Regions from separate parts of the Homo sapiens genome. Here regions 2 and 3 are each linked to region 1. Evidence: fine-mapped expression QTL. A gene starts in region 1. Each other region holds a variant in brackets. All regions are shown on one strand. Distances are from middle to middle. Region 1 holds the start of PELO (pelota mRNA surveillance and ribosome rescue factor). Region 2 overlaps ITGA1 (integrin subunit alpha 1). Region 3 overlaps ITGA1 (integrin subunit alpha 1).

Evidence for each region. PIP is the estimated chance that this variant, and not a neighbour inherited with it, causes the effect.
Region 2: its variant is fine-mapped to the expression of PELO in whole blood (GTEx, PIP above 0.99).
Region 3: its variant is fine-mapped to the expression of PELO in whole blood (TOPMed, PIP above 0.99). The same link has a PIP of 0.9 or more in unexposed skin.

The regions. Positions count from the first base shown.
Region 1 is chr5:52,785,127-52,791,081 of GRCh38, reverse strand. It overlaps PELO (pelota mRNA surveillance and ribosome rescue factor), which reads right to left and starts at 3,166. Exons shown (of 3, transcript NM_015946.5): 1 at 2,668-3,166. ITGA1 (integrin subunit alpha 1) reads right to left here and starts at 3,166. Exons shown (of 29, transcript NM_181501.2): 1 at 2,668-3,166. The coding sequence starts at 2,728. PELO-AS1 (PELO antisense RNA 1) reads left to right here. Exons shown (of 5, transcript NR_186455.1): 2 at 5,490-5,547. RefSeq lists an enhancer at 3,199-3,478.
Region 2 is chr5:52,919,590-52,925,544 of GRCh38, reverse strand. ITGA1 (integrin subunit alpha 1) reads right to left here. Exons shown (of 29, transcript NM_181501.2): 17 at 5,077-5,213; 18 at 2,658-2,768; 19 at 58-267. Among named protein-coding and RNA genes, the nearest start is that of ITGA2, 67 kb to the left of the region's middle. The variant T/C (reference allele first, on the strand shown) is at 3,042.
Region 3 is chr5:52,820,233-52,826,187 of GRCh38, reverse strand. All of the region lies in intron 1 of ITGA1 (integrin subunit alpha 1), which reads right to left. Among named protein-coding and RNA genes, the nearest start is that of PELO-AS1, 22 kb to the right of the region's middle. The variant T/C (reference allele first, on the strand shown) is at 2,579.

The DNA of each region.
Region 1 (5,955 bases):
TAAGACAGTCTAAATCAAATAGGAAGTTTATTGGGATGCTGGTGGCTTGTTGTTCTGATGTAAACCCAGTTTGGAAGGCTGTAGAGAGTTTATTTAGATGTCAGAGGGTGGTAGGATGGAAAGGTGGAATTCTTTTCTCGATGTATAAAACAAGGTCATATCTTCAGTGGCAAAATGAACATGAGGATTATGGAGAAAGTAAAGAAAAGTGATTGGCTATAATGGACAGTTTATGCTTATGGGTTGTGGTAGGCAGAATAATGGTCTCCCAAAGATATCCATGACCTAATGCCTGGAACCTGTGAATATGTTATCTTAGATGGTAAAAGGGACTTGGAAGATGTAATTAAATTAAAGATCTTGAGATGAGGAGATTATTCTGGTAGGCACATTGTAATTACAAGGATCCTTAGGAAGGTAGTAGGGTCAGAGTCTGAGAAGGAGATGTGATGATAAAGCAGAGTCATGGGGGAAGATCTGAAGATTCTACCCTGCTCGGTTGAAGATGGAGAAAGGGGCCACAGGCCAAGAATGCAGGTGGTGGCCAGAGGCTGGTGAAAACAGGGAAACTGATTTTCCCCTAGAACCTCCAGAAGAAATGCAGCCCTGGTGACATCTTGATTCTAGCCCAGTGATACTTCTGACCTACAGAACTGTACAATAGTAAATTTATGTTGTTTTAAGCTGGTGATCTATGGCAAGTTGTTACAACAGCAATAAGAAACTGACATAGGAGTAGTAGGAGATAGAGAGAGGGTGTTGGATTAGGGCAGTCAGTTGAGAATTTTGGATTTTATCTTAAAGGCAACAAAGAACCACCAAAGATTTTTGACTAAAAACAGATATAGTAAAAATGATGTATTAGGAGGGTAGACTGGAAGTTGGGTTCAAATTGAAGACAGAAAGATAAGCTCTACAGTAGTGTGCATGGATAAGTATGGTGATGAGTCCCCAGGTTACAAACGGACTCTGAATTGATGAGAAGTTTCCAAATCTGAAAGAGATTGCTAAAGAAGAGCCTACAGAATATAATGACTGATGGGAAAGCAGTCCAATTTCAGATCCCTCATGTGTTGCGAAATGGGCATAAATATAGTGCACACAAGGTTTCTAAATATTTTAAGTCTCTTCCTGGATTCACCAATGTATATTTCACCAACATATATATGAAATTGTAACTTGTTAAACTTCTCTGTTACTTCAAGTTTCACTCTTGTCTTTTTAGAGGATACGCAAACCTCATTTCATCATTTCTACTCTAGAGACTGCTTATTTGGTAGAATGAAAAAGTACAACTTGGATAGTAAACTACTGTATTCAGATTTTGCACAAAAACAACAAAATACAATCTAAAAAAATTTGAGTTGGAGAAGAATCATAGGTCAAATATGTGTAAAAAGTAGTGGCAGTAGCTGGTAAGTTAAACCACTCACCGGCTATAATGCTGTTCAGCAGTTACCACTGTTTGGATTATTGGACATTTCCTGAGTAGTGGGAAATGTTTGGATGAAAAGCCAGTAGCTAATTATTAACTCTCTTTACATTACCTCCCTTCTGAAAAAAGCTCTGCTTGCTGATAATCAACTTCTAAATCATCTTCATAAAACTTAACAATGCTTGGCCATCTAAGGCAGGTCTAAACTAGCTGGCTCTACCCTGTTTTTAGTGGTAAAAATGCTAAATTAACTAGTACTAATAACCATGCCAGCAGTAAAAACACTGAACAATTGAATATCAATGATATGTTAAAGCCAGCTGTTAATTAACCCATTAATAAGGTGATTTTCTTTCACACAGAGATTCTATCGATACACTTTCCCCCCACCTTCTTCCATTTTTCACCATTTCAACTTTCCCCCACCCCAATCAGTAACTGGTAAAAAAGATCTGACCATGAGTTCATTATTGGGAAAATCTTACAAAATGCTATATTTCAAGCTTTTTCTAAATTGGATACAACTTTGCATTTCCACTATGTTTTTAAGTCCCCTCCTTAAAAATACACATTTATGTACAAATAACAATACTATATTTTGCATCTTAAAAGTAGACTGCCCTGTGATATTTACAGAGAAAATGTTCACCATTCCTTTCTACGTTTCAAAATATCCCTCCTCTTGGGTGCTGACATAGAAACATCATTTTGGAACAAGTGGCAGTTTCGTCTTGCATCCCTGCCTTTTCTTGTTCTGCATGGGAAAAAAGCCTAAATAGTAGACAGCAAGAAAATTCAATAATGTCCACTCTGGAACAACCCGAGGGTAGGAATTTTGCATATGTATCAGGCGCCCTATAAGCATCACCCTCCCATCCCATGCCATAAAAAAGGGTGGAGGGGAGGAAATATTCAGCAAAGTCCTAATATACAATGTGTATTGTAAAAACAACTTTAATTTTAAAAGTGAATTCTACCTTCTAAGGTTTTCAGTGCTGCCTCACTCCTACTCCTAGGGTGAAGGACTTTGGAGAGACACGAAAACTAATTCATATCAAAACCAGAACGCGAAACTCCTGCCTGCCCCGTAGCCTGGCCTGAGTACCTGGAATGCCCGAAAGTGGATGGGCGCTCTCTCTTCCTATCTGGCCCATGGCTCTGAGGACCTCCCTCCCCGCTCCAAGCCCCAAGCCCGCGAGCAGGAGATGCTCAGAGAAAAGCGAGTCGCTCACCAGTGAGGAGCCAGCAGCAGGCGACAGCGACCCCTGGGCGGGCGCGGGGCCGAGGGGCCATGGCCGGAGCAGCCTCAGCGCCAGGGGGCCGCGCTGGTTCGCAGGGCAGGACCGGGCGCGGGAGCTGCGCTCTCTGGCTGGGCCACTTATCCCGCTGCCGCGGTTCCCAGTCCTCTGCCCCAGTGGCAGCGGCGCCCAGGAGCGGGAGAGGAGTGATTTCCTGTGTTTTCGTCGAATTCCTCTAAATGCGCTCCACGCTTTTCACATCCCAGACGGATTGCCACATCGCCCGCCCCTTCGCGCTCTTGGTCTCTGAAATCTCACTGGCAGCTTCCCAGGCTCTGTCCGAGACATGGACAAATAAAGCCAGCTTCGCGGGTCCGTGTTTAGGCTAAAGTCCACGGGCTGTAGAAGCAAACCTTAAAGGGACATCTGCCTTTCATTGAGAGGGTGATCTCGTTCTCCGGGCCAAATCCCCTAAGGTGGTAGGAAGGCGGGTAAGGGCTGGACCTTCGGGAGGGTGTTGCCAGCCCAGTGGCTCCGCCTTCACACCCCTTACTTCTCCCGGCCCGGGCAGGGAGGGCGCTTTGACAGTGCCTGGGCGCCCTTAACGGGAGGCAGCTTTCCCGGGTCCATTGCGCAGAGGGATTAGGCCGTCTGTGAAAATGCGAGGATCTGGAATCCCCCCTTCCATCCCCTGCGGACACTTGAAATTCACCGTGAAGTCGTTTTGCACGAAAGGGGGCGTCCCCACCACCCCGACAGGCTCCACTGAGGGCTTTGCTTTCGCTTATGGGGGGGTGGGGGGGTTGCTTCGTTTATGGTAATTCGTGGTTAAAGGGTGGTTGCAGATAAGCTTTTCTTTGAGATAACTAGGATAAGGGGAGAAAAGGAGAAGCAAGACGGAGGAAAAACAGTAAGAGGGAGAGCGAGAAGGGAAGAGAGGAAGAAAAGCAGCCTCCTTGGAAATGGAATGTGTGTGGGCTATTTTGTTTAAGTGAATTAGGATGTTTGTACGCTGGTAATTGAATCTAATAAAGAACTCGGGGCACTACTTTATTTTTTTCTTGCTTGAAACTTTCACGAGTGAAAATGCATTAAGAGTCCAGAAGTGCTTAGGAACTTGCAATGCTTCCCTTTCCTGGTGAGTTGAACAACCTCTCTGAGTCAAAAGCCATATTCACCCTAGCTTCAACCAATGCTGGCTATTTTCAAAATAGCTGTGTCTTAGCGGTTTTGAGAATTTCAAAGACAGAAAGAATAAGTGGATTTGTGTTTAGAGGAATCTGAGGGAAACAGTTCAATTCAATTCTTCAACTCAACAACTAATTGAGCATCTCTAGCAGAACTAGGGCTAGGCAGGACAAGAGTGCCACCCAAAGGAGGGTTCGTTGAGCAGAACGCAACACAGGTAGCACAGAACAGGTAACACGAGGGACAGGAAGGAAGAAGCCCACAGGGTTCACTGGATACATTGCCAGATAGAGGATCACAGCAACTAAAAGCTGGAGAAGACAAAAGTTGAAGAAGTTTAAGGAGCGTCAAAAATGGGGTGGGCAGACCCAAGGAGGTTGAAGGCCATCAGATCTCAGTATGTTGACCCATTAATCAAGAAATTCCTTTTCTATTATGTATCTGAACTGATTCACTATTTAGTAAATACATTAAAAATCTCGTTCTCCCGTTTTTAGTTTTTATAATGTCATTTCTCAGTTCTGTCTTCAAATTTACACAAATGAGTCTCTAGAAAAATTGTATTATGTTGGGTCACAGTTCAATCCCATTGGACTTTACTTAAGTTCCTTTGTTTGTGTTCAATGCTCTCATACCCTGCCAAGGAATTCATTTCCTGTGTATATCTCGTTTCCCTGTTGGTAGTATCAGTTATGTCTTATGCCTCTCAGTATGACTCTCTGTGCTTTGAACAGTAACCAATAGATATTGATTAATTCGTAGACATTTAAAAATCATAGTAAGTACTTTCCCAATGATATTTCTCCAAATTGCTTAGTTTTCAAAAACATATAATAGTGTGTCTATATATACACAATCATGTGTATGTATGTATGTGTACATATATATGTACAGCATATACATACATATGCAAATACATATATGGCATTTTAGCAAATTGCAATATATTTCATTAGAAAAAACAAAAAGAAATTGTAAAATATTGAAATAAAGTAGGGTTAACATATAATATGTTCAAGTTTACAATTACTGGGAAATTTACCTTTCTTCTGGGGGCTAATATATAATTTCAATTTTAATATTTTTATTTCCTCTAGGACTTACAAATTATTGGTGATAACCATCACTAACAGTGATATTGTTACAATTAATTTTCACAAGTTACAAATTTTATGTTTACATGTTTACATATTTATGAATCTTTTATATGTCTAGTCAATACAAATGTAGAGACTGAGAGATAACTATGGTTAGAGAATTAATTTTAGAATCAGTGCTTATTTTCTGAACTTCAATAAACCCAAATACAAATAAATGTCAAGCCGGTTATTTTCTTAACCAATTTTATTCTGACTGACAGAAAGACATGTCATTGAGTAAAGATTTAGAGAAGACAGAAACTTGCCCAGAGTCACAAACTAGTTATTGATATGAGACACTTGATGACAAATGTTTCAGCTCTAGACTTTATACTACATACTTTTCTATTTTAAATGAGACTTGATTTGATCAGATCTCTTTAAGGGTTTGGAAGCATGAGTAGGAGCATGAACCTTATTGTGAACTGCACACGCTTCTTATGAGAATCTAATGCCTGATGATCTGTCACTGTCTCCCATCATCCCCAGATGAAAACGTCTAGTTGCAGGAAAACAGGCTGAGGGCTCCCACTGATTCTACATTATGGTGAGTTTTATAATTACTTCATTATATATTATAACATAATTATAATGGGAATAAAGTGCACAATGAATGTAATGTGTTTGAATCATCTTGAAACCGTTTCCCCTACCCCTGGTCTGTGGAAAAAATGCCTTCTATGAAACCGGTCTCTCTGCCAAAACGGTTGGGGATGGCTGCACTGAAAGATTAGAGACTGAACTGATTAAGAATTTGGAAAGTGGATGTCTATGAAATGAGGCAAGAGTAATTGAGATTATTAACCAATAATCTCAAAAAGAAAAACATATACTTAAAACCAAAGTATTCTTCTTGGAGTTAATCTAATATACTGAGTAAAGTAACTAGAGTAAGTAAGGTTCTGGAGTTACGCTGCTTGGACTCAAGTCCTGGAACCACAATATAGTAGCTGTG
Region 2 (5,955 bases), 130 kb before region 1:
AAGTAGGCCAGGTAAATGATGTTAAGAGAACAAATAAATGAAAAACTGGAAGTTTACCTCAATTCCTGAAAAAACTAGATTTGGAGAATAATGCACTATTGTCCTGGTGTTATAGGCACTGTCCTTTGTATTTTTGACTGTGAGGCTAACGTTGAACTTATCATTCTGGGATCGGACAATCAGCAGGTCCTTTTCAGTGGTGGCGACATGCAGGCTGAGGTCTGAGATACATTTTTCCTTATTTCCACAATCTTTGGCAAAGGGAATCTGAAATGATGACAGGAAAGAATTTTTCAAAATTTAGCTACGCATTGTTGAAAATTACCCATCAATTTGTGTAACAAAAATGGCATACAGCCAAAGTAAGTTAAGCAACTCATAAGGAGAATTTCCCTGCAAAAATCTTAAGGGATTTTATATTTATCCCTGTAATTTATAGGGGAGAAGAGTAAACATTTACTTACAAATGTAAATTGTGCTTGTCCTTTTAAGAACGCACAATTTTCATGGGTGCTTTGCACTGGCTTTTGTCTGCCAGGGAAGGACAGTTTTGAAATACAAAGTCAAGTACTGCAAGATCTAAATCTACTCAACTCTAATCATGAGATTTTTCTCTTAAAATTAATCAAATACTTAGGAATATCATAAAGCTCAGTTGAGAGGGTGGAAAACGGTCAAGCCACAAATCTAGGAGTTTTGCTTGATTCTTCTTCATTGACCGCCTCTCCACCACCACCATATGTAACTCACCAAGCCCTGTCCATTCTACTCCTCTTCTAAATATCTCTCCAATCCTTTCTTGCTTCTGCAGTCCCACCACCACCTCACACCCAAGCATTCTCATTTCCTCCCTGAACTAAAGTAATAGCTTCCCACGGGGCTCCCACATCCACCTGTTTCCCTCCAACCACTCTTCACTCTGCTGCATCCTGTCGTGTGGCTGAACCAAATAAAAACCTTCAAAAGCACTGCACTGCTCTTTCAAAAGTTTAGAATTTGTGCAGTGGCACCAAGTCCCGAATGACCCGGCCCCTGCCTTTACCTCCGGCCTCACCTCACGTCACCTCCTTTCTTGCTCTTTAGCGTCAGCCACACTAGCGAATGTCGTTGTTTCCTTCATGCTCAGGACTTTCACACTTAGCATCCCCTCTGCTCCCCAAACTCCCCTAAATAGGGTGGAAATCACCCTATCCTTCAGGGCTCCACTGAAATGGCACAACTTCAGGAGGGCTGTCCTGACTTCTCAGCCTAGGTGGAAGTTCCTAGAGAGCTCTGAAATCCTCCTCCATAGCATATGCTCTAATTACTACTTAATACCTGTTTCCAGTGTTAGACTGTAAGCTCCAATGCCTGGTATGTATAAGACAATCAATATATCTGGTAGGAAGGAAGGGAGAATGGAAGATAGGTGTATGGGGAAAAAGAATTCCCCATCCCTCATATCTCTTCCATTGGAGCCACGCTAGTGACACCCTCCCTCTTCTCTCCCCTCACTCCACTCTCAGGGGTGGCACATGGACTCTAACTTTGGGAACAGGAACTAAGTGAACACAACTCAGTCCCTTTCTCTCATTTCTATTCTCAGAGCAGCTGTACCCACAGGAAGCACACATTTGGCTCTACTCCATTTGACAAGTTTTACAAGGTGGGCTCCATGAAGAAGGACAGAGATGGATCAGCACTGCTGATGACCTAGGTGGTTACTGGTGGTCTAAGTCCATGCTTCAGCGTGAGGACACCCTTTATACCTAAACCATACACTGCAATCCAGTGCTTATTAGAATAATGGGGGAGATTTCTTTCCATTGGTCCTAAATTCAAATGAGGTAAAAATGAGTGTCATTTATTAGTTTTCTTAAACTCCAACAATAGGAAATTAGAAGGATTGGAAAAAGTCTAGAAGAGCCTAATTCTTTTTTAAAACATTTTAAATTGATTTAGGGTTATGTGTGCATGGGTTTCAAGCTTTTTCCTAATGTTACCAGGGCAAACCTGGAGATATGGCTGAGAAAGTTTACTATTTTCTTGAAGAGTAGATAACTGAGAAAGTTCATTATTTTGTTAAACAGTAGATAGCTGAGAAAGTGCATTATTTTTTCTTAAACAGTTTTTTTTTTTCTAGTCTATTTATCTGTAGGTAAGCTTGCTGAAAAACAACTATAGACGGCCTGGGAGCTTCAGGACCCTTTGCCAATTACCAGAGGAAGATAAAGCCATTGAGAAAACGGAGCAAACAAGAACCAGCAACCCCTTGTTACCTTTAGATCATTAACATGTCATTATAATGCTAAAGTCCCTGCCATAGAAGAAAATGGCCACCATTTCTTGAACATATGTTGTATAAGGAAGCATGTTTATGAGCTGTACTTGTACATCTGGAGTTCCTCTCTGGACATGCTTACATATACCTCCCTGCCCCACATCTAACTCCTTAAAATTCCCCAGGTTTTCACAGCTTGAAGAGAAGGTCTTTAGAGCAAGAGCTCCCTCTTTCTCCATTCCTGACCAGGAATAAAATCTGCTTGCCTTTTTTTTCTTTCTTCCAGTTAGTTGTTCGTTCTTTGTGATCAATGCAGAGTAGTGAAAAAACACAGTTTACTAGTGACATTAAAATGTTCACAAGTTGGTATTTTGTATTTTAAAGAAATCTGACTTACATATTCATGTACTGAGTTTGGTAGAGAATCATCAAGAACAGGCCCATTTTCTGGATCGGTAAGATTAAAGTCCAACGTTATTCTCACAGAGTCCTGAAAGTCATGCTTGTCCTAGAGGGTGAAACATAAAATATATCACTGGTATCATATTTACCGGGTGTTCTGATCTTGTTATGTCTCCTTCTTCTGTTCCCAAGGGTCAGGCTTACTGCAGCATTCTTGTGCATCTAATCTGACATATGATCTCATCAGGCTTTTGCTTCCCTGGAGAGGGATTGGCATTCTGACAAGGGGCATAGGGGAATGTGGAGGTTTCAGAGTATGACCTGTTGACTCACTTCCAGTTCCTCAGAGGGCCCTGCTGGAGTGATGGCAACATCACAC[T/C]TGGCTGTGTCAACATAGGAGCTACCTGCATCACAATATAGTTTTTCTTGAGACCTCAAGCCAAAGATCATTATGTAACACTTCCGGGAACATTTCCCAACTTCAGAAGGGCAAACTTTCTATAAAATGAGTTACATTTCATTAATATAATATATACCTACAGCTATAAGTTTTTGTTTGTTTGTTTGTTTGTTTGTTTGTTTGAGACAGAGTCTCTCTCTGTCACCCAGGCTGGAGTACAGCGGCACGATCTCGGCTCACTGCAACCTCCACTTCCCAGGTTCAAGTGATTCTCCTGCCTCAGCCTCCCGACTAGCTGGGATTACAGGCATGTGCCACCACACCCAGCTAATTTTTGTGTTTTTAGTAGAGACGGGGTTTCACCACGTTGGCCAGGCTGGTCTCGAACTCCTGACCTCAGGTGATCCACTCACCTCAGCCTCCCAAAGTGCTGGGATTACAGGCGTGAGCCACCATGCCTGGCCAAGAATTTTATAATGTAAAATTATTTGGAAAGGATGTGAATATGATTAATACTGTTAACATGCCACCAATAACAATAATCATTTATAGTATTCAAAATTATGAGCTTTATATACATTATTGCAAATTATTTCAACAGTCCTCTAAGATGAGTAACTATTATTGTCCTTATTTTACAGATGAAAGATTGACCCTCTAAGAGACCAAACGACGTTGCCAAAGTCTCTCAGAATGTGGAATATTTGGGATACAAATTCTACACTGGCTGACTCCAGAACAAATTTCAAAGTGCTTCTTTCAAAATCCAAAACAATTTTCGAAATTTTGAAAATATTTCAGTCCTTTAAACACCAGTACCTGGACATAACTTAGACACTGAATTTGTGGACAAACATAGACTGAGATGATTTTTAGCAGGTTGGAGACAATGCCATATCTGGTTTCATACCCATTCAAATTTTATCCACATTCTAATTCCTAAGTGTTCAGTTCTGATTAACTAAATAGGAGGGGCAACTCCAGTGTTATTTTACCAAATAATAGATTGATCTTGGTCCTGACAGAATAAGCTTCATGATAAGTATCATGAAGCATATCAACATGAAAATCACTGAGGAAGAACAAATGTGGCACAAAAGGGTGCACATTTTCTGTCACTCCCCTGCCCCTGAACTACAATTTTCAAAATACAGACTATGAATATATCAATAATACAGAAATAAGTCAGAAGTAGGAAAATTGGCCTGGTTCCTTTAAAGCTCCAAGTTTACCGTCAAGTCTCTAAGTCTTAATGTCAGTTACTAAAATCAGTTTCCTCATTACCTTCATGCTGCTTCTTGTTTTTATCACTCTCATGTACATTTTAAGAAAATGTTTAGGAAACTCCTGCCCTCTGTTGGGAACATTCCCCATATACACAGTGTCCCAACAAAATACATTTTAAATGATTCACACTGGCTTACCAGCCATCTCTAAACATTAATAGTTTGATTTCCAAAACTCCCTCATCCACTAAAATTAAAAAAAAAAAAAACTGAAGTAGCACAAAGCCTACAGATGATAGAAAATACCAGATAATTTTCCCCTTCGCTCTAAAATCAAACGGCGAGATATGTAGTTACATGGATCCCAGAAAGCATACAGCCCAGCAGTCTGCCCCCAGAGCAGTTAATCACTTACCAACCACAACTGACAGACAAGGCCCACAGAAATTAAATGTTTTCAAGTTGAAGGAATAAATGAATGAGTGAAAGAAATGAAGACATGAATAAGGTTTCTTGTCAACTAGAACACTGTGTCTTTTCCTGCCGTTCCATAATATATGGATGTCTGATAATGCAGACAGGGAAGACTAGAGATAGTTTTACAAATATTTGGAAATGAGAAAATTAGACCTGCGATTTTATGATAAAAATGAACAAACAAGATTTCCTTTATGACATCATAAGTGCATTTTGAAATAAAACAGTAAGAATTTGATTGACTTGAAATAAGACATCTCTACTGTATTCTTGATTTGGAATAAGGCAGCAACGATATATGATTTACTTGCCAACATGTAGAAGGAGTGCTTAGTGCATTCTGATTTTCGAACTGTGATGTTCCTTTGAACCTTTCTCTCTTGAGTTCCAGAGAAAAAACTTCGTGATATTTGTCTTAGTGAATCTAGGGTGACACGGTACTGCAAATCTACAAAAATTTTAAAAAATAATTGATGGAAATGTTTATTTGAAGTGATTCTCATATTGTACAGATTATTAAATTAGCATTATAGAAAAATCTCTTTGGCAATCAATCAAAAAAGATTCTATTGTTCAGCATATCCACACTGTTATAACAATGATATTAGCAGTCATGAAGATAACCTTGAGGAACTCTATAGAACTGGTCTCTGAGTTCACTGTGCTTTCAGTGTCTAATTACATTTATTGTTTATAATTCTTATACACACATGCACACCTGCCTATCATCTAATTGCCAGGCCACCACTGTATTTATTATATTTTCACTTAAAACATTCTTTTTAAGTTTAGAAATGTTGGAACCCTGCTTAGAATATTGATTATGTTATATTTCAATAGGGACAAAAATATACTTTAGTTATTTATTTACAAATATATACATTTTAATCTATTTATATATAAAATGACATTATCTCAGCTTATGGTCAAACCACTATTAAGGTTCAATAAAATAAGCATACCACAATAAAGAAAATAAATGAAATCTTACACTGTATATGAAGGCTACAATATTCCTTATTTGATCACTTAATTACTTTGCAAAAATTAAATAAGACTGAAATAAAGTTACATATAAAACTCAAAATCATTATTTTATGTTCTTATACCTCATTGATCTTTCTAGTCAGGAGGCTATTTCAGAGCATATACATGCACATATGGAACAAATCAAGAAAAACAGATTTTAA
Region 3 (5,955 bases), 35 kb before region 1:
GCTGCTTTGCTTTCTTATCATTCATGTGTTCACTGGAGTAGCACTTAATTTTCTTCAAGAACTTCTCCTTTACATTCATGACTCAGCTAACTGGACCAAGAGGCCTAGCTTTGGCCTATCTTGGCTTTCAATATGCTTTCCTCACTAAGCGCAGTCATTTCTAGCTTTTCATTTAAAGTGAGAGATGTGTGACTTCCTTTCACTTGAACACTTAGAGGCCACTGTAAGGTTATTTTAGACTAACTTCTTTCCTTTTTTTTTTTTTTTTCTTTGACAGAGTCTCACTCTGTTACCCAGGCTGGAGTGCAGTAGCATGATCTCAGCTGACTGCAACCTCTGACTCCCTGGTTCAAGCGATTCTCCTGCCTCAGCCTCCCAAGTAGCTGGGATTACAGGCAGGCGCCACCACGCCCAGCTAATTTTTGCATTTTCAGTAGAGACGGGGTTTCACCATGTTGACCAGAATGGTCTCGATCTCCTGACCTTGTGATCTGCCTGTGTTGGCCTTCCAAAGTGCTGGGATTACGGGCATGAGCCACTGTGCCCTGCCTATTTTAGACTAATTTCAATACTTTTGTGCCTCAGGCAATAGAGAGGCCCAAGAAAAGGGAGAGAGAGAAGGAAACAGCTGGTCAGTGGAGCTGTCAGAACACACACACTTATCAAAATTTCCATCTTATATAGGCACAGTTCCTGGCACCACTGATCACAAGGCCCCATAACAGATATAATAATAAGGAAAAATTTTGAAATTGCGAGAATTACCAAAATGTGACATAGAGACACAAAATGAGCACTTGCTGTTACTTGTTCAAGTGAAGAGTGGGCCACAAACCTTCAATCTGTGAAAAACGCAGTATCTATGAAGCACAATAAAGTGAAGTGCATTAAAACAAGATGGGCCTATACTGATACATACTATGACATGAATGAATCTTGAAAACATCACACTAAGTGAAAGAAGCCAGACACAAAATACCTTTTTATTGTCTGATTTCATTTATATGAAATATTATTTAAAGCGGCATGTTAATAGGAACAGAAAACAGATCTGTAGTTCCCAGGAGCAGAGGGAAGGGAGGAATAAGAGTAACAGATACAGAATTTCCACTGGATGTAGTAACAAAAGTTCTGAAACAGACAGTGGTTCACAATATTGCACAACCTTGTAAATGTACTTAATGCCACTGAATTACAATTTTAAAGCAGTTAAAATAATACATTTTATTTTATGTATATTTTACTATAATAAAAATAAGAAGCAGCTCAATTATCCACCTTAATCATACAATAATAGGCTTTGTTTAAAAACTAAACTTTTCATTTTGAGGTAATTATAGGTTTACATGCAGTTGTAACAAATAATATATAGAATTCTGAAGTACTATTTATCCAGTTTGCTTTTTAAAGGATCTTCTGTCTTTATTTTTTCTATTTAAATAATGTAATACAAATTTAAAAGTATCTTCTCTTTGGTGGCTAATAGAGGATTGTGTAATTGGGCATTCTGCAGCTTGGGCTTGCTGCCTCTAGCATGGGGTAAAAGTACAATATGTTTTACTTGGTTACTTATCAGCCCATTAAGAGAGAACAATCTGGCCGGGCACAGTGGCTCATGCTTGTAATCCTAGCACTTTGGGAGGCCAAGGCAGGCGGATCACTTTAGGTCAGAAGTTCAAGACCAGCCTGAGCAACATGTGAAACCCCATCTCTACTAAAAATACAAAAATTAGCAGGGCGTGGTGGCACATGCTTTTAATCCTAGCTACTCGGGACCCTGAGGCAGGAGAATCTCTTGAACTCGGGAGGCAGAGGTCACCATAGGCTGGGATCATGCCATTCCGCTCCAGCCTGGGCAACAGAGCAAGATTCCGTCTAAAAAAAAAAAAAAAAAGAAAGAAAAGAGAGAACAATCTTCTCAGCTATTTTATCATTAATGGGAGACAAAAGGAAACAGAAGTAAGGATAGATATTAAAATGTGGATGAATCATGTACATATTCAAATGCATTTTCCATATTTAATTCCTTTGGTAAGTGACTTATAATTATTTGATTTAATGATTACTATATATATATATTAAAGGTCATGAAACAAAGCATAATCAGGGCTGAAGAAAATTAGGTCCCAGATCATTAAGTATGAGAACATAAAACAAATATAGCACTCTTAAAGTAAGGCCCATTTTCTTCAAGCTAGAGCTCTTTAAATATCTGACATACTATCACCAGAATGTGCTAATGATATTCCGTATACTTGTAAAATAAATTGGCAAACGTTGATAATATGTTTAATTTATTTGTAAAGCTACCACAGACATACAAAAGTCAATTCTGTTTTCTAAGCATGTAGAGGAAGTTGAAAAGAAATGCTGAAAGCACTTTCCCCTTCTTTTTTCCTTGTTTTCTCCTAGTTTCCAATTCTTTCTTTTCCTTTGTCTGTATTTTAGCACTCTCTGCACTGCTTTCTCAGTCTCCGTTGGGATATTTAAAAGCCAACCACAGGCTAAACATTGATCAAGTAAATAAACATTTAACTGGTGTGGGTTCTGCCTACAGCAGGATCATGTGACAAGATCT[T/C]AGGAGTTAGAGGACCTCCATTTTCCTAAGGCAGGAAAAGGTTGAGATGCCCAAGAGAATAAGATGGACTTATTGGACATAATCATCACCATTTAAAATGATTTGGATAGGTGCCATGGCTCACACCTGCAATCCCAGCACTTTGGGAGACTGAGGTGGGTGGATCACTTAAGGCCAGGAGTTTGAGACCAGCCTGGTCAACAGAGCAAAACCCCATCTCTACTAAAAAATACAAAAATTAGCTGGGCATGGTGGCGCAAGCCTATAATCCCAGCTACTCGGGAGGCTGAGGCAGGAGAATTGCTTGAACCCGGGAGGCGGAGGTTGCAGTGAGCCAATATCGTACCACTGCACTCCAGCCTGGGCAACAGAGCAAAACTCTGTCTAAAAATTAAAATAAAATAAAATGATTAAATACCTCATACAGATCTGGTGCTACCATTTTGGTCATTCCATGAGTATCTCTCTCCGAGGCTTGTCTAAGATTCAGAAGGATGTCAGGAAAGTCGGGGCACCATTGAGAGAACTCACTCACCTTAAAGCTTGTTAGACCTGGTTCCTTGGAGCCCTCTTTTGACCATGCAATACAAACTCGATGTGTCCTTGAGGAATCTCAGAAGGCTATAGCTGGAAAAGTCCCTATTCGACCATCTAATGAGACAGTGTCCTCAAATGATGAGAACACTGATGCCCAAGCAGTTGAAATATTTTGCCTAATATACTGTGGCTAGTTTAAGTGACCAAACCTAGAGCAGAAAACAATTTTCTTGCTCTGATTCAAGTTCCCAGTCCACTATCTCACACTATGAAGCACATAAAAAGCAGTGATGAACCATCTTCATTATGTGTCCCTGGGGTGTAATTACCGATCATACGAAGCAGAAAGATTAGAAGTAATAGGCCTTCTGCAGCTCTTGCAGCTGTGTTTCCACTGGGTGAGACAGTGTCAAGGGTAGAGGCTACAATACGAACTGGCGAGGGAGGAGAGCCAAGTGACAGACTTCCAGTCAGCAACAGGCTTGGGCCACTTGGCCAGGAGCCACCTAAGTGTCCCATATCCCCTATGCAGAGCAGTCCGGATACTCAGCCTCCAGCTCTTCTAGGAAACTAGCAATGCAGATGCCTCTATGAGTTTGAGATTGTCTAGCTCTGCCCAGTCCAAACGGAAGTGTCCCTGAATCAGTGGGAGGAAGAAGAGAGGCAACTGGTTGGATGAGGACTGAGTTTCATTTTAATTATCTTTGTATCCCCAGTGCCCTAAGTAAAATCGAAGCTCAAATATGTTTATTTGAATAGAGTAACTAATTATAGCCAGAATGTTGTCACCAATCTACTGTAGGCAAAACATTTGTCTCCTCTGAGCCTTGATTTCCAAGTCTATCAAGTAGAAATGTTAATAATGATCCTTGTAGTATTGTTCAAGGATTGACATAAAATTCCACATATGAACACCATTTGGAAACTCTAAAGCACTCTAGCATATAAAGGATAAAAGGTCAGGAAACGGCCTCCACATGGCAAATTCTCAAATAGTCCCATTGCCAATTTTGTTGTTGACATTCTTCCATTCATAAAATATATGCAATTTAAGTTGCAAGAAAACAGATATTTCTATTATAATGTGATATATTCATTCCTAAAAGCAATCTTGTGTTTTCTACAAAATCACACATAAAAATCATACAGCTTATGATAAAAACAGAGTTGGGGCAGTCAACTCAAAGTCCATACACCTTTTTAGCTAAAACATAAAGTCGAAACAACTCAAATAAAAATACTAGCATAATTTTAAAGGCATTTAGATTCCTAATAAATTCTATACTAAATAAATGATTACAGTGGAATGAAGTAAGAAAATGTTAAGGCTGAATAGTTGTGGGGACAAGGGCAAAATGAACTAAGTTTGGGGCCAATTATATAAGCCCTTCCAAGAAATCACACACAGCAAAACTAGGCAAAGAGGAAGAATACAAGGAGAATGGGAATTCCTTACAATACTGTATGAGTATATGCTTACTGTGTCCAACTCTTAGTGTATTTGGCATTCAAGTGGTGGCATTGGTAGTATAAACATTAAGGTGCTAGGGAAAACTGAATTATAGTGACTTATGTATTATAGTGACATCATTTTTCCATTTACCAATTCTGTATGAGCAAATTTCCTTATAGCAACATTCATTGGGAGGGAATATTCTTATTTTTTATGAATATCAGTGGGGCCATCTTCACACGGAATGGGGTGAGGAGAGCTGTCTAAAAACATACTTTTTTGACTGACATAGGTTCCTAGACTTCGGAACAGATTTAACAGTTTAGACCACTGGAGATAACTTTGAGAAACATTGACCCAAATTAAGCAGTCTAAAAATGCAAACTAAAGGCCGTCACAGTCATCCTTAATCTTAATGCTATTGAATGGTATCAAACTTTACTGAATCCAAGTCTTCGTATTTGCTGGTATATATAAACGTGCCTTTATCTATTAATCAACCAACATTTATTAAATAGATAAATCTGTGCTAGCTGTTGTCAGAATACATAATTGTTTCATACAATGACTGTAATGGCAGAAACACATGCACATACACACACACACTTAGAAAGTAGGCTATCAATACTGAAGAGTACATGAAACCTATCCATTTAGTGATAGAGATATTAAGGACTAAATAGATGAGAGTTTCATCTTTCCACTGGGCTAAGGGGTTTTAATCAAAACAGACAACCTTAAATTGGGGAAACTAGCAGAATATAGCAAATATCCTCCCAGCATATGCTCTTGTTAAAGCCAATAAAAAAAAACTGAGATAATACTATAAATTTCTTATTCATGTTTACCTGATTGATTTCTGGTCTCGGGAGAGAACTAAATGCTTCAAAAGTTTTTCTGCGGCAGTTAGGGCTCACCAAATATCACCAAATAATTATGTGCTTGTCTGTATGTCCCAGAGTCCCTAGCAGTAGGTGGAAGCCATGTGGGCTGGTTCTCATCAATGAACAAGGATCAGAACTAACAATGTATTACCTCCACCTCCGGCCAAGGGAGTCAAGAGCAAGTGTGCCATTTTCTTTTTCTTTTTTTTTTTTATTATACTTTAAGTTTTAGGGTACATGTGCACAACGTGCAGGTTTGTTACATATGTATACATGTGCCATGTTGGTGTGCTGCACCCATTAACTCGTCATTTAGCATTAGGTGTATCTCCTAATGCTATCCCTCCCCCCTCCCCCCACCCACAACAGGCCCTGATGTGTGATGTTCCCCTTCCTGTGTCCAAGTGTTCTCATTGTTTAATTCCCACCTATGAGTGAGAACATGTGGTGTTTGGTTTTTTGTCCTTGCGATAGTTTGCTGAGAATGATGGTTTCCAGCTTCA